Regions from separate parts of the Homo sapiens genome. Here region 1 is linked to region 2. The links come from fine-mapping of genetic effects on gene expression. Tissue or cell type: testis. Region 2 holds a variant in brackets; the other region holds the start of a gene. All regions are shown on one strand. Distances are from middle to middle.

The links. PIP is the estimated chance that this variant, and not a neighbour inherited with it, causes the effect.
Region 1: ARHGAP6 starts here. The variant in region 2 is fine-mapped to the expression of ARHGAP6 in testis (GTEx, PIP above 0.99). The same link has a PIP of 0.9 or more in tibial nerve.

Annotation. Positions count from the first base shown.
Region 1 is chrX:11,662,505-11,670,612 of GRCh38, reverse strand. ARHGAP6 (Rho GTPase activating protein 6) reads left to right here and starts at 4,693. Exons shown (of 13, transcript NM_013427.3): 1 at 4,693-6,372. The coding sequence starts at 5,785.
Region 2 is chrX:11,460,184-11,468,291 of GRCh38, reverse strand. The region is part of intron 1 of ARHGAP6 (Rho GTPase activating protein 6); the gene reads left to right. Among named protein-coding and RNA genes, the nearest start is that of MIR548AX, 150 kb to the right of the region's middle. RefSeq lists a cis regulatory region at 6,004-6,014 and an enhancer at 5,937-6,081. The variant G/A (reference allele first, on the strand shown) is at 3,778.

The DNA.
Region 1 (8,108 bases), 200 kb before region 2:
AAGTACACTTTCACCACAAAGATAGAACAAAGAATGCCACTAGCACACAGTGTGTGTTCAAAAATGTTTATCAACCAAAACTGAATTTGGCTTTCAGCCAATTTATATTTCTAAAAGTCTCCTGAGATCAAGATTCAAAGCCTAAAGCAAAAGGGATGATGGTCATACATTTAGGATTTGATATTGGAAGATTCGTTCACATGCCACAGGTAGAGTAACCACTGTTTGGTTCAGGAGTTGCCCCTGTGATCCTGCTGAGCACATCTACACTGCAACTTGGTTTAAGATTCTTATACAGCCTTGTTTTTCACTTGCCCTGCTAACTTGGGCAAGTGAAAATAGGATGGTTAACATTTAGAAATAGTGTACCCCGACCAGGCGTGGTGGCTCATGCCTGTAATCCCAGCACTTTGGGAGGCCGAGGCAGGAGGATCACTTGAGGCCAGGACTTTGAGACCAGGCTGGCCAACATGGTGAAAACCCATCTCTACTAAAAATACAAAAATTAGCCGGGCATGGTGGCAGGTGCCTGTGATCCCAGCTACTGAGGAGGCTGAGGAAGGAGAATCGCTTGAACCCGGGAGGTGGAGATTGCAGTGAGCCAAGATGGCGCCACTGCCCTCCAGCCTGGGCCACAGAGTGAAACTGTATTTAAAAAAAAAAAAAAAAGAAGAAAAAAATAGTGTACTCATACCTGCTCAAGAAATAAACATGTAAGCGAAAAGGCAGAAAATGTGCCTATGCCAAACTCCTGCTTTTTTAAGTCTAGAAGATAAATATTAAACACTAGAAAACATAGAACATGTTGCTAATATTTGCACAGAAAATGAGAAAATGGACAATGTTGCAAGTGGATGTTCGTGTGTTCAATGCAGATGCTGACACAGATACAGTCGTTTTCTTTTACTGAATTTAATTTTTTAAGGTCACAATTGGTGAGAAATGGCAAAATTAGGCACACAGAGTGGGGAAAAACTGGGAAAGATGAATAAGAATAGTCATTTGGGTTTCCGAATATAACGTCAGAAAAAAAAATTTCACAGGTCTGGATATCAACTAGAGGAATATTAAAACCTCAAGTGTGTACCTGGAGGGTTCATGGTTCCAATTCTGGGCTATGTGAAATTGATCCAAAATATTGAGCCAAAAACCTTGCCTGTTGGTATATAAATGTAATAGAAGACAAAAATTTCCTGTACTCAAAGACTCTAGGTTTACCTCCACTGACGTTTGTCGATTGTAATTTAAGTGCTTTGGCAGCTGGCATAGGAATCTAAAGAAACATTTTTAGTTCAGGCATGGGGAAGTTGGGCTATTTAATGCAATTTGCATTCTTAAGCCTTGTAAAATTTCTCCACATATCTCTCATGTATTCCATGCATGTCACACAGATTTAAATGATGCTTCTTTTTCATGTTTCAGGAGCTTGGAGACAGAACCCGGACTTTTATGGGCAAGTGAGATGCTGTGAACTGTTTACCCACTAAGAACATAGAAATGATATCGGGGGATCATGATCAGTTTGAGAGACATGGGCAGGATGAAATGAAAATCAACAATGCTAAAAGTTGGGAGCCAATCAGATAGAAGTCTGAAATATTATATGACACTCAATCAGAAAGTTCAGTGTGATTTGAGACTGTTTAAGCAATGGGATTATATAACAAACAAGAGCAAAATAGGATGCCCTAACCTGGAATATTGGACCTCAGGACTGAAAAACAAAAGCAACTGGAGGGAGTCCAGAAAAGATCATCTACAGTGATGGTTTTAAAGCAAAATATGAACTTTATAGTGTAGCCAAACCACAGAGTCAGACCCAAAGGGCATGATAAAAATCTACAAATAGCTTTGGGGTCTAAACACCAAGGATAAAGAGGAATTTTGGCTGGAGATATGAAAAGCTTCAAGGGATAAAGTTAAGGAAAAGGAAATTTAGGTTAAGCATCAGAATATATCCTTTGATAGTAAGATGTGTGTGTTTGTAGAACAGTCTCTCAAGGGAATAGAAAGAATACTGATGAGTTTTCTAGGATCTCTGATAAGAGGATAGCTTGATGTCAGTCCAAGGATTCTAGAACTTCCATTGGAATATTCTTGTGCCATGACCAGATGGAATAGATAGCATAAGATGTTTTTTAAATCCTAGATGTCTACAATAATTATCATTGGGAATGAATAGTGAACAGAATGTTCTGCTCTTTAATGAAAGGTATCCCAAGTCTTTGATTAACTTTGTCTCTGAGGAAAAAATTAACAAATATAGGCACTATTTTCAATATCAAATGCCCTAATAGAGAAGCAAAGCAAAGTCTTAGAAACCTGCTTTTGAAAGCATATACATTAAAACTATTTATTTCTTGACTACCAATTATAATGCTTCTGAAGCTAGCTGATGAATTGTAAGAAGGATTCTGGGAAGCAATGTAACAAAACCAGCCATTTTTTGAAATTGGTAACCAAAACCCATAGATCTTCCTTAACTGAATTTGGCATAACCTGACAGTTGATCAGAAAGGCCAATGTGAGTTGAGTCTATATAAACAAAGAGAATATATAACAAACAAGAGTTAAATAGAATGCCTTAAATAGGAATGAATGAATCCACCATAAGCCACTATGACTGCAAGGTAAACCTAATAGCAGTCAGGTTGAAAATCAAAATAGTTTTAAAAAAATCCAAAAAAATTCTTACAAAGTCTTTCTAGAAGAACATCAACATCCCCTGCCCCAGGTATTAAAAGCACACATACTTACACTGAGTTTTTAAAAGGAGCCCCAGTCTAATTTGATTAATATTTAAAACAATTTATTCACTGTTCCCAACAATGACACAAGTTTCCAGTTTCCTGGAGGGTCAGGAACACTTGGAAACTAGATGATGAATTAACTGGCATGTGTGTGTTCCAAGCCCTAGGAGTGCTAATAGAAGAATCCCTCTGCTGGTTGGCTCTCCAACACCCATGAGCAAGAATGTATGCCCTTGTGCCTGGGGGCATTCATACTAGCCTATACAGTCATGGCAGGGGTTCATTTGCTACCCCATGGTTATCATATGGGGTTAGAGAAATATATAAATCATCAAATACAATCATCAAGTTGCTCACCCCCCTTGAGTTATAAGTGATTCTGTGAAGTGACTCTGTTAACCATCTACCCCGAATGCCAAACTCCACTGAGGCATAACCATGCAATGAGGCATAACCATGCATTCGTATCCCAGTGGTAGAGACATTAAGTGTTTCCATTACCAGTGATAAATTACAGTTTTGTTACTAAAGAAAGGGCAGACAAGACCCACACACTTTTACTTCTAATGTGACTTGTATGAGGAGGGAAGAAAGCCAATGCCAACAAGCCCCCAAATGTAACTTGGCCTGGGTGTAGTTAGGCAGGGGAGCAAGAGCTCTTTTTAAACACTGTGCCTGTCAGCAGCACACCTGATTGACAGCCGCTGAAAATACTTAAGAAGCTCAGGGTGAGAAGAGATGGACAGCGATGGGGGATGGGAAACTAGAATCGAACTCTGTCTTCAGACAGCAGATAGCTCATTAAAGCTACCGGAAAAAAAATCTCTAAGGGTGCAGTCTGTTCGGCTGCGTTTACAAAAAACGAGTACAGCCAAGACCTGGGAGCCCGACGCCCTTTGTGGAGACAACGAATTCTCCTAATTAGATTTCATGACGTACCTCCTCCAAAATAGCTGAACACCTAGGAACACCAAACACGCTTTTCAAAGAGTCTAAGTAAATTAACTTTTCCCCTGAATATGTCATAGGGAATAAAGGAAGTCTTCCAGAATCAAACTTGGACAATTCTGGTAGATATGCAAGAGGAATGTTCGTGTCCAACATCTGTATTTATAATTTCATTGTATTTTTTCTCCAAAATAAAAGAAATGGTAGAGTCACCTTTACATTTATATAAAATTATCTTCATCCCTAAGTGATAAAAGAGGACACAAACACAAAGTAGACATTTCCAACATTCTGTCTGCTCCCTGCTGAGATGGTTGTAAGTTGCATTGCAAAGCTTAACTGTTACATCAAAAAGCCCTCCAAGAGGGCGAGGCTTTGCGCTTTATAGATTCCAGGGGTCCGACAGCGGGAGAAGCTGCTTTCAGACTCATCTCCTTGCCGGGAAGATTGATTTCCCCAGCGTTCTCCAGCTTCCCAGGACTGTGGCCACCGCGCTGAGACCCGAGGCGTCCCAGAGCGGGACGCGGAGACAGATCGCTTTGTGAGCGCCAATCTCTGCAGCCTCTGGGCTGAAGCTGCGCCCGGCGCCTGCCCCCTACCCGGCCTCACTCACCCCTCCTCCTAGAGCACGTTTCCGCACGTGCTCAGGACCCCTTCCACGGCAAAGGCTCCTCCCCCTCCACTTTCTTAGTAGGTCTCCATCTCCAGCTCATTCATCGGCAGCCACTGCTTTTAGACAGTTTCCTATCTATCCTTCCTTTTTAAAAACAAAAACAGCCGGGACAGGGCGGGGTGGGGGGGCGCGGGGAGAAAAGGCAGGAGATTTAACTCCAACTTCAGAGCAATCGTCCCCGGCTGCCCATCTGACACCAGTGGGTGGGGTGCAATCTGACACTTCCCTTCCTTTCCAGAAACGTGAGTGGAGCTGGCGCGACCCTTGATCTGGGGGTGGGGAGACGGGGGAGAAGGTCCGCACTTCCGTCCTCACGACTTTCTCCCCAGGAGACCCGGTATCAGTGGCGAGCTGCCTTCTCTCCTCGCCGCTTGCAGGTTTGGCGCCTGGAAAACTCTTCACGTTCTGCTTTCTCCTGCTCCTGGCTCCGCCCCAGCTCCAGCCCCGGCATTCCTCCAGCTCTACACGTCCTGGCCGCCCCCTTCCCGCTGCCTCTAGAGCGAGCGTACGGGGTCATCTCCGCGTCTGCCCTGGGCCCAAGGCTGGGCTGCGAATAGCGTGTTCCTCTCCGGCGGAACACACACACCCGGCCTTGGGGCTGTCTCCTGAGCTCCCTCCTCCACGGAGAGCGCTGAGCGCCGCCGGGAATTCCATCCCACCGTGGGCACGCAGTCTTTGGAGGTCCCGGGCGCAGCACGCTCGGTGTCCCCACACTGCAGCAAGACAGAGACCCCGCGGGAACCTTGAGCTTGGAACAACCCTTGAGCCTCTGCAGTCGGAAGAGTGGGCGCAGCAGCCCAGCGGAGGCCAGGCGCGCAACCTCGGGCGCCGGGGCAAGGAGAGAGTGCAGGGAGGCGCAGCTCAGGCGCCCGGCTCAGGAGCGGGAGGAAGTTCTCGCGGCGCCGGGAGCGCGGTGGACGCGCCCTGGGCGCACGCCCAGGCAGCCTTCTCCCTGGCCCTCGGGACTGTCCTCGGGCCGCAAGGAGGAGCTTGCTGGAGTCTTAGAGGCCATCCAGAGCCAGCGAGCAGGAGCGCTGCGTCTCCCGCCTCAGCTAGGAAGGGGGAGTGGCGCTGGCAGGCTGGAGCTGGGAACCCAGCGAGCGCCTGACCTTCCTCCTCCTCTTCCTGACCCTCTTCGCGTCTTGGGCTCCGGAGGAAGGTTCTAGCGGCTGCAGGAGGTCCCCAGACCCATTTTCCTAGAAGGCTGGTGATGGATCTGCTGCTCCTGCCGCCGCCGGGGCACTTGGAGCGCACCGGCGGCGCGTGAGCTGGGCTTTGCTCTCCACTGCCCTGGGCAAACCCCGGGCCAGCCCCGCCTGGCACCTTTGCCTGAGTCCCTTTCGGTTCCCGACCCAAAGCCACCAGCGTCCAGGGAGGGAGGAGGAGGTGGTCCTCAGGTGCAGCCCCGCCGAGATGTCCGCGCAGAGCCTGCTCCACAGCGTCTTCTCCTGTTCCTCGCCCGCTTCAAGTAGCGCGGCCTCGGCCAAGGGCTTCTCCAAGAGGAAGCTGCGCCAGACCCGCAGCCTGGACCCGGCCCTGATCGGCGGCTGCGGGAGCGACGAGGCGGGCGCGGAGGGCAGTGCGCGGGGAGCCACGGCGGGCCGCCTCTACTCCCCATCACTCCCAGCCGAGAGTCTCGGCCCTCGCTTGGCGTCCTCTTCCCGGGGTCCGCCCCCCAGGGCCACCAGGCTACCGCCTCCTGGACCTCTTTGCTCGTCCTTCTCCACACCCAGCACCCCGCAGGAGAAGTCACCATCCGGCAGCTTTCACTTTGACTATGAGGTTCCCCTGGGTCGCGGCGGCCTCAAGAAGAGCATGGCCTGGGACCTGCCTTCTGTCCTGGCCGGGCCAGCCAGTAGCCGAAGCGCTTCCAGCATCCTCTGTTCATCCGGGGGAGGCCCCAATGGCATCTTCGCTTCTCCTAGGAGGTGGCTCCAGCAGAGGAAGTTCCAGTCCCCACCCGACAGTCGCGGGCACCCCTACGTCGTGTGGAAATCCGAGGTAGGGACCAGCGCTGCGCGTCCCACGGCCCAAGGAGGAGGCCCCCAGGCAGTTTCAGGAGACCGCCTTTAATTCCATTACATTTACAGAGCAAGGCACCCACTAAGGGGTTTCCGTGGTGTGGGTTTTCCTCTTCTACTTGCTAAATGGTGCCTGGAAATGGGATGTCCCTAGTGGCCACCCGCTTGTGCGTCTTGTAGGACTTGTTGGCTCTACTTTGGAGCAGTCGTGGGAGCTGGAGAAAGAGATGGTGTTCTGGTTTTCTGTTAGTGCTGCAGGCAATTTCAAAGGGTCACCTTATCCCTTCACCCAATGTTGATATTTTTTCCAACTCAAATATCTATTGCTAAGCTGTTTGTAACGATTGGATGAAATATATTTTGAAATATGTCTGCCATCTTGTTCTGTAGAGAATTCAGAAACATTATTTTGGAGGGTGTCATTGACTGTATGAGTGAGTGTGTGTGTGTGTTTGGGTGGCAGGGGGGACAAGAATTCTCTAGTTTTCACCTTTTCTTTCCCTGAAGGGGCAATTTCAGAAATCTATGGTACTGAGTATTAGTTTAACCTAGGAGAAGAAGAAAATCTCTGTGTAGGGGTGTGAAAGATCATGGAAATATGCTGATGCCTAAATTCCATTTAGAACAATTAGTAGTTTAGTGAAGAATCAACAATACATAGGGGACTCAGAGGGAGCTATCAGATACCCTTAAAATATTTGCTGTCCAGTTAAGAAAAATAGTGAATTGACCTATTGGGAAACTGTCACTGATGGGCGCTTTGAAAATAACACACTTTCAGAGAATAGTAATTGTTTTAAAAATGAACAGCCCCTATCCCCTTCGGTCCACAAACTCTATAGGTTTGCCTTGGATCTGTTTCCATAAGGGAAGGGAGATTCCATCAGTTGTAATTTAATATTTTAAAGTACAGTTAGCATTACAGAAATGAAATGAAATACCATGTAATTGCTGGAGATTTAGGCTAAATACACAACCAAGGAAAACCGTTTGAAAATAGCATCTGAGATCATACTCAGCTGTGTTAATGTGAGATAACTGTTAGACTTTGGCTTTAGTAAACCGCCTTAGAAAAATAAGCATCATTTATCAGAATTATTAGCATCACATATTATTAATGTTAGTTACTGTGTCAAAGTAACTGAGGCTGTTAGGTGTTGGGGGTGCAGATTACAAAAAACTAACAAATTTTGCTAGGTCTTTTGCCCATTTTCTTGAGAAAGATAGGCAGTAGAAAGGAAAGTCGAGGCAGAGGGCAAGATGTTACCTCCAAACCAGGGAACTCAAGATTAGAAAGAGCATCAAAAATTGAAATGTTGAATTTCTCTTGGTCTTTAGGAGGGGCTGGATTCTCATTGTATTTCAGAAGCACACATTATCAGATTAATCTGTACAAGTTGAGAGAAAGAGAAATACAAAAGCAAGCCAGCATTTTGGATTAGCTAGCTAACATTCGTGCTTAAAACTAATTGCATCATTAAGAACATTTCTGCTTTTCTTAGCAACCATATACATACTTGGAATATAGTATACAGATGCTGCTCATTACTGTTATGACCAAAAGGCATGTGGCTGTAGATGATTTCACTTGTTGCAAATTATCTTCTTATCCATTAGCATCTCATAATTAATGGACAAGGATCTGAACTGCAGTGATACTGGGTGGCTTCTATTCCATACAGTGGGCAGTCTGCACAAAACTCATCTACCATGATT
Region 2 (8,108 bases):
TTCGTTGAGTTTCATTTTTGTTTCATTTCTTATTATATTGAAATGTATACACACAAAAGTATACAAATTATAAATGTACAGCTTCATGAATTTGCACCAAGTAATAACAGTCATATAACTAGCACCCTGATCAAGAAATAGAACATCATTGGAATCCTACAAACCTCCCTTGTGCCCAATCATGATCTCCAACCCACCATCTCCAAAGGTTGCTAATATTCTGACCTCTACCACCATCAGTTAGCTTTGGCCATTTATTTATTTATTTATTTATTTATTTATTTATTTATTTATTTATTCATTCATTCATTTAAGACAGAGTCTTGTTCTGTTGCCCAGGCTGGAGTGCAGTGGCACAATCTTAGCTCACTGCAACCTCTGCCTCTCGGGCTCAAGTGATTCTCCTGCCTCAGCCTCCTGAGTAGCTGGAACTACAGGTGCATGCTACCAAGCCTGGCGAATTTTTGTATTTTTAGTAGAGATGGGGTTTTGCCATGTTGGCCAGGCTGGTCTCAAATTCCTGGGCTCAAGCGATTCACCCATCTTGGCTTCCCAAATTGCTTGGATTACAGGCATGAGCCACTGTGTCTCACCAGCTTTGGCCATTTTTGTACTTTATATAAATGGATATCTACAGTGTACCCTTTTGTGTCTGATTCTTTGCTTATCGTTATATTTGTGAGTTTCAGCCTCAGTGTTGCATTCATCTGTAGTCCATTGCTCCTTGTTGCTTTGTGGCATTTCATTCTATGTATATACCATAATATATCCATTCTACTGTGATTTGTGTTAAGAGTTGTTTTCACTTGCAAAGTTTAAGGTAGGAAATTTTCCTGCCTTTGGTTGAGAGAGGGCTGTTCTCCCTTACCATAAAGATACATCCTTTTTAGAGACCCAGAGTGTTTTTTTTTGTTTGTTTGTTTTGAGACAGGGTCTTGCTCTGTTGCCCAGGCTGGAGTGCAGTGAGCCATGATTGTGGTGAGTGCTACCACATCCAGCTAATTTTTAAATATTTCGTGGAAATGGGGTCTCATCATGTTGCCCAGGCTGGTCTCGAACTCCTGGGATCAAGCAATCCTCCCGCCTAGGCCTCCCAAAGTGTTGGGGTTAGAGGCATGAGCCACCATGCCTGGCTGAGTCCCAGCTTTATGGGAAGGACTGTCCCATTCAACTTGTTACCATGGGCAAGCCTAGAATTCGCATTTTGTCCACTGAATCCTGTGAGGTCAGGAAAACAGAATTTAGATTCACCACATTCAACAAATGACTTCAAGGCAAGCACTGGCTGTAGGGCTGCAATGTTCTTCCTGATTATTTTGAGACATAAGTGTTCTTTACTTTTTTGTCCACTCATGCATATTTTAAATAGGGCTTTAAAATACATTATCCAACATCCCTAGTTGTTTTCTGTGGAAGGCTGGTGTGGGTATTCATTCTGCCTTACTGTAAGAAACATATATAGACATGTACTTTAAAAATGCCCCTTGTGTTTGGGTGTGGTGGCTCATGCCTGTAATATCAGAACTGGGGGAGGTTGTGGCAGGAGGATTGCTTGAGGCCAGGGATTCAAGATCAGTGTGGGCAACATAGAGAGACCTCGTCTCTACAAGAAACAAAAAATTAGCCTGGTGTGGTGGTATGTGCCCATAGTCCCAGCTACTCAGGAGGCTGAGGTGGGAGGACAGCTTGAGTCCAGGAGTTTGGGGTTACAATGAGCTATAATTGTGCCACTGCACTCCAGCCTGGGTGACAGAACAAGACTTTGTGTCTATAGAGAGAAACAAAAAGGCCCCTGGATTTGTGAAACCAATGTATCTATTATAAAATTTAAAACAAGTGAGGTGTGGTAATAGTTTTTTTTTTTTTCATATTCTTTCTCAACCTATATAAGGATACCAAAGAGGTTATAATTTTTTACCGAAGTTGTCCTCTTCTGGTTTTGTTTGTGGAGAGTAAATAGTTTATTTCAAAGGCTTAGACTTGTGTCATTTTAATATTTCCCTCACAAATCATTTTGAGTGATTCATGCACAAAATATTTTTAGGAGCTACTTTTTACATTGTTTTGAGGTAAGCCTTTATGGGTTTCCAAAGATGGTAGTACAGGAGTCAGGAGTGAAAGGAAATGTGTACTCTACAAAGAGAAATATGATCATTGACATTCAAGAGGCCCAGAAAAAGTGCTCTGCAAGTTCAAAGGAGAAGTTTACTTCCTTTTGAGTGGATCAGGAAAGTCTCTGTGTAGGAAAAGACATCTGAACTGGGCCTCGGAAGATGGGCAGGGTTAACTGTTCTCATGGAGGAGGAGGAAGAGGAAGAGGAGGAGGAGAAGGAAGAGGAGGAGGAGGAAGAGGAGGAGGAGGAGGAGACATACTCGTCTGCATGAGTTCAGGTAGGAAAATATAGTTGAGTTTGTCTGGAAGAATGCATTCATAGATTTAGAACTGTGCTATCCAACGTGGTAGCCACTGACTACCATGTGGCTTTTGAGCACCTGACATATGGCTCATGTGACTGATGAATTCATTTTAATTTAATATAATTTGCAATGAAGTGAAATTTAAACTTTTAAAAAAGTGATGCTGTGTTCAGTTTTTGGAAAAGTTTTAAGTACGTTTGGAACAACTTGGGTATGTGAATCTATTCTTGCAATCATATATTTTATGAAGTCTAAGTCCAGATCAAGTATTTCTAATGAAAATCCACTGTCCAAATTGAGATGTGCTGTAACAATGTAAAATATCTTATTAATAATTATTTATTTACATCAATTCCATGTTGAAATACGATTTGGGATATTTGGGTTAAATGAAATATATAGTTAAAAAGTCAGTTTCAACTACTTATTTTTACATTTTTTATCTGACTACCAGAACATTTTAAACTACATATATGGCTTGTATCACATTTCTATTGGACAGTGCTACTCTACAGAGAAGGTTGAAGCATAAAATGAGAGTGTCTTGGGAACTTTAGCAAGTTACTTATCTTCTCTGAGCCTAAGTTTCCTTATCTCCTGTGGTTTTTGCTTCATACAAGTATTGAGAGGGCAAAATTAGAGTTGCACGCAAAGCCCATGTTAACACAGTAACAACGGGCTCAATAATTGGGTATCATTATTCTTTTATTTAAAGGGATAAAAAGGTAGACAAGTAAGTTCTGTAGAAAAGGGAAGGGACAGTGAGAGTATCTGATTTATAAAGTATGTAATGGCATGGGCAGTTATAAGGATCATAGACCCGAAGATCAGTGAGTAATGAGTGATGCGTGGCGACCTGGCAAACAAGATTAAGAAAGCTGAAAGATAACAGATGAACCGTGAGGGATGAAGGTGGTGCAGTCAGAAGATTGTTCTAGGCTTGGAAGCCGGTTCTGACTTTGCCGTGGATAGATGGGGAAGCCAGCTCACTTACTATGTCTCTTTGTAGCATCTGAAGAATGACATGGCCAGACCAGGTGGCCACCCAGATTACTTTAGGGCCAGGTATTTAACTTGGTAGAAGAAATGGAAGACAAATTTTTCATAAATGTTGGTGTTGCTCCTTACATGAAGCTCATTATAGTTAAGGAAACAGAAGCATTTTATCTAAAGGTAGGTCTAAGGAACTTGTGATGACGTATTGAAGAAAATGAGCAGTGAAAACAAAGAGGAATAAAGTCTTGAAAGAAGAGATTGGCACATTCTTTAGCTTTGCAGTTGAACTTGCTTGGCAATTACTGGAGATAAGGAAAAGAAGAAGGGTTTGGCCAAGGTTTGTTAATCTTTATAAACAGGCAG[G/A]AACATCCTGTGCCTTTTCCCCTGTAATTACAGTTTATGAATATTTGTTTGAGTGTTAGGATACTTTTTTCTTTGCCTTTTGATACATCCTTGTGTGTACTCCTTGTTTATCTGTGACTTAGTTTCAGTTTTCATGTCTATGTGCTTCAGAAAGTCAGAAAAATTAATCATATGAGCTTAAAATGCCGATCAAGAAAAGCTCAGCAAGATACATTGTATTGAATGCAGTGATTTCTTTTAAAATAAAATATTAAATAATTTCTGCTTACCTGGAGGTAAGGGAATAGCTTTGTAAATATTCCTTTTTTGGAGAAAGTTCCACTGTGGTTTATATTCAGCCACAAAGAGGGCATGCTTCTTATATTATATCTCAAGGTGGAATTCATTTTGCATGTAAACAATGTGTAGATGAGGATGAGGTTTAGCCGCATCTATCCAAAAACTCAAAGTAACCATAGCTGAAAAAGATAGGAAGTTATTATTTTCTGATTTAGATGAGACTGGAATAGTGACTTCACATTTACCTGGGACCCAGGTTTCTTCAAGCTCCCTCCTCCATCTTCCTAGCACATGTCTTTCTTCTGAAGGGCATTTCATGGTTTAAGATGGCTGTTGCTTTGGCAGCCAACTACGAAGCAGTTGACTTATAATTGAAGGCCATGTTGTATTTAAAGAATGTATGACTTCGAACACTAAATGCGGTTCATAGTTTAGCTTAGTGAGGTGCTGTCTGTGGGAAGCACGCAAAGACAGACACCGACTGAACAGGCAGTTGTGATGACTTTAATGGAATCACATTTTCAAAGTTATGTGCACTCCCAGGGGGACACACTCATGAGTGCAATGTAGCATGTAATCAAATGTTTGAATTACAGGCTGGGTTCAGTGGCTCACACCTGTAATCCCAGCACTTTGAGAGGCCAAGGCAAAGGGATTTCTTGAGTCCAGGAGTTCATGACACCAGCCTGGGTAAGATAATGAGACCCCATCTCTACAAAAAATCAAAAAGTTAGCCAGGTATGGTGGTTAGTGCCTGTAGTCCCAGCTACTTGGAAGGCTGAGGCAGGAGGATCACTTGAGCCCAGAAGTTTGAGGCTACAGTGAGCCATGATCGTGCCACTGCACTCCAGCCTGGGTGACAGAGTGAGACCCTGTATCAACAAACAAACAAATGAAAGAACAACAACAACAACAGAAAACCACAATAGTTGAATTATGTTTTTTCATAGGCATTCTCCCATTTTTCCCTCCATCCTCCCTCTCCACACGCCCCACCCACACCTTTTCCAGAACACCCATAGTTGAATTCAAGGTAGATATATTTGCACGTTACGTAACTTCACTGTATAGTGAGGTCTCCCTACTCCTCCAACACCACCTTCCACTCTGCTCAGGTGATCTTTGGATCCTGCAGTTCTGTACTGGATGCAGAAAGAGAGAAATCCACCAATGCTAATGGGAGACACCTAAAAGGAATCATAAAGTAAAAAGATGGATACCCAGATTTCTGGCTGGGACAGACTGCATTTCTCAGCCATGGGGCAGACTGCAAGAGGAGAGATACAAGAATACACTCAAGTACTTTCAAGGGTCTCGCCACTACCTTTTAAAAGCCATTTCAGTCAGCCATGCAGTTAGTGGAAACGCCTGTGACAGTCTAGCAAAGTGCTGGCAGAGGTCCAGTTTTTGCTCACACTTTTTAGCTTTGATGGTGTCACCATAGGTATTTGAGTTTAAAAGTTGGAAGCAAATGCATCATAGAATCCTTACCACACAACATTATAAATTTGAATCCCATGCAGGTAAAGCCTTTATATTGGATTTGAGGGATGAAATGGCTGCTTTCTAAGATTTGGAGAATCAGAATGTTATCCCAAATCTCATTATAAAAATCAAATTAATCGATTTGGAGTGAATTGTCAAACACAGCACGATGGTAATGTTTTCTTTCTTGATTGAGTCATTAAACTACAAAATCGCTGCTATGTTTCTATTCTGTTATTCCTTAACCACAGCTGAAATAAATTTGGAAAGTGTTTTCAGACAGTTGGGATGGAGGAAACACAAGGACGCCATTACTACACTGTACAAACAATGCAAAGGTCGCTTTCCCACATCATCCCAAGGCTTGCTGTTAATCTGGGACAAACACAGTTAGATATTTTTTGATGGAGAGGGCATTGTCGTGGGTGGAGAAGAGATGAGGCAGTTCCCTTCGACCCAGCTGTGACTCAGCTCAGGTCACAACTTGTGGCCTTAAATCTCAAAGAGAATTAGATGTGTGTGATTTCACAAGTTGGACTTTCTTTTATTGAACCTATTTCTAAAGCACAAGAAGGAAATGTGCAGCCTACCGTGCATTAAAAGGCCAGTAGACACTCTTACTATCTGTATCCCCTGGTTCCTTTTGTGTCTCATAAATAAAATATCTCTACAAAAATATGGAAAATATCCTCGCTCTAAATTAGGAAAGCAGCCTTGCTTTAATTTCCTTCTCTGCAAGTTGGCAGCTGGGTAAAAGAAAATATTTTGACTTCCAGAGATGCTATTGTCCCTCCTTCAGCCTCCCTCCTAGCCCTGGGCTTCAGGCAGTCTGCAGGGTGTTCTTTCTGGCCAGTCTCTGGTCAGATCTGATATGCTTCTTCTTGAGAGAGGCCCCTGTTTCTCAGCCAGCAGAGGCTGCAGTGGGGAAGAGTTGCTGCCTGCAGGAAGTCTAAAGTCCAGTCACATCTTTCAGCTCCATCCTTAGCCTACAAGATAGGAATGTGGTTTCCTTGATAATGTTCTGCTGAACTGTCTTGTACACAAGATAATGTTTGCTTCATCATCCCTGAAATATGTTTCCAAAGCTTCGTTGTGATGGTCAAGAAGCAGTCCGTACCTTGGAGAGAGGCCCGGGGAATGAAATTCAGAGAGACAAGTATGTCAACCCCACCACCTCATTCATGTATTCATTCAGTAAACAAAGTGTCTGAGGTTCTACTGAGTGTCCAGCAAGTGTGTTAGGCACTTGGGGGATAGAAGTGACAAACACAGATAGCTCCCCCCTTTGTGTGGCTACGAGTCTAAGAGGTGACCCAGACAGCACTTTCTGTCTCTCTCACTCTCTTGCTTTTGCTCACTCTGTGTGATCTTGCCCCTCCCTATCTCTCCAATGATTTCTTCTATAACTCTTGTCCTTAGTCACCACACAACTGTCACACTGAGCTTCTTACTCTTTCGTGAACATGTCAGTAATTCCTTCCCCACAGCCTGTATACTGGCTCTTCTCTGTATATGAAAAGATTTCCACAGGGTGGGCTCCTTCTTTGTTTGTCTCTTCCCAACCAGCTTGAGTTACGTGAGATCACTTGACTGGTTTTGCAGCATGGACTGTGAATGGAAGTAGCATGTATTACTTTCTGGCCAAGAAAGTAAATGACCCTCCAGCTCTGTCTAAGCAATCTGTTAAGATGGTGGCATCTCAGTTTGGAGGACCCTCGCTCAGCTGGAGTCCATTAGTAACTACAAGAAGTAGAGCCCCCGAAAACCCACAGCATCACTGAAAAATATGTTTCCATTGCATTAAGCCAGTGAGGCTCCATGGTTAATTTGTTACCCCAGCATAACCTTACCTGACTAATAAATAAGCTCATTTGAGTGGAGTAGACACCATTATTATTCTCACTTTACAAATGAGGAAACAGGCACACAGAAGTAATAATCTACCTGTAGTCACACAGCTAGTAAACAGTAGAACTGGGATTTGAACCCAGGTAGTCTAGCTCCTAGGACTGTGGTAAACTGCACAAACAATGCAGGAGGAGGCACTTAAATATAATTAGGTCCAACCAAGGGAAGTACGGTGGAAAATTCCAGCCTGAGGAAGCTATTCTGGAGTGGTACACACAGCAGGATCTCAATAAATGTTAAATGAATGACTGGATCTTTTTAAGGAGCAGTATATTCAATTGTTTTGGCTGCATAAGAGAGTACCACCTAGTGGCTTAAAATAGCACACATACATTATCCCACAGTTTCTGTGGGTCAGGAGGCCAGGAACACCTAACTGGATCCTGCACTCAGGATCATACAGGGTCATACAAGGGTCCTATGACCCTAAGTGAACGTATCAGCCAGGGCTGCTGTCTCATCTTCAGCTCAGGATCCTCTTCCAAGCTCATGTTGATGGCAAAATCTAGCTTCTTACCATTGCAGAAATAAGATACCCTTTTCTTGCCAGCTGTCAGCCAGGGGTTGCACTGTGCTCCTAGAGTCCCCTTGAAGTTCCTTGCCATGTGACCATCTCACAGGCCCTCTCACAATCTGGCAACTTACTTCTCAAAGGCCAG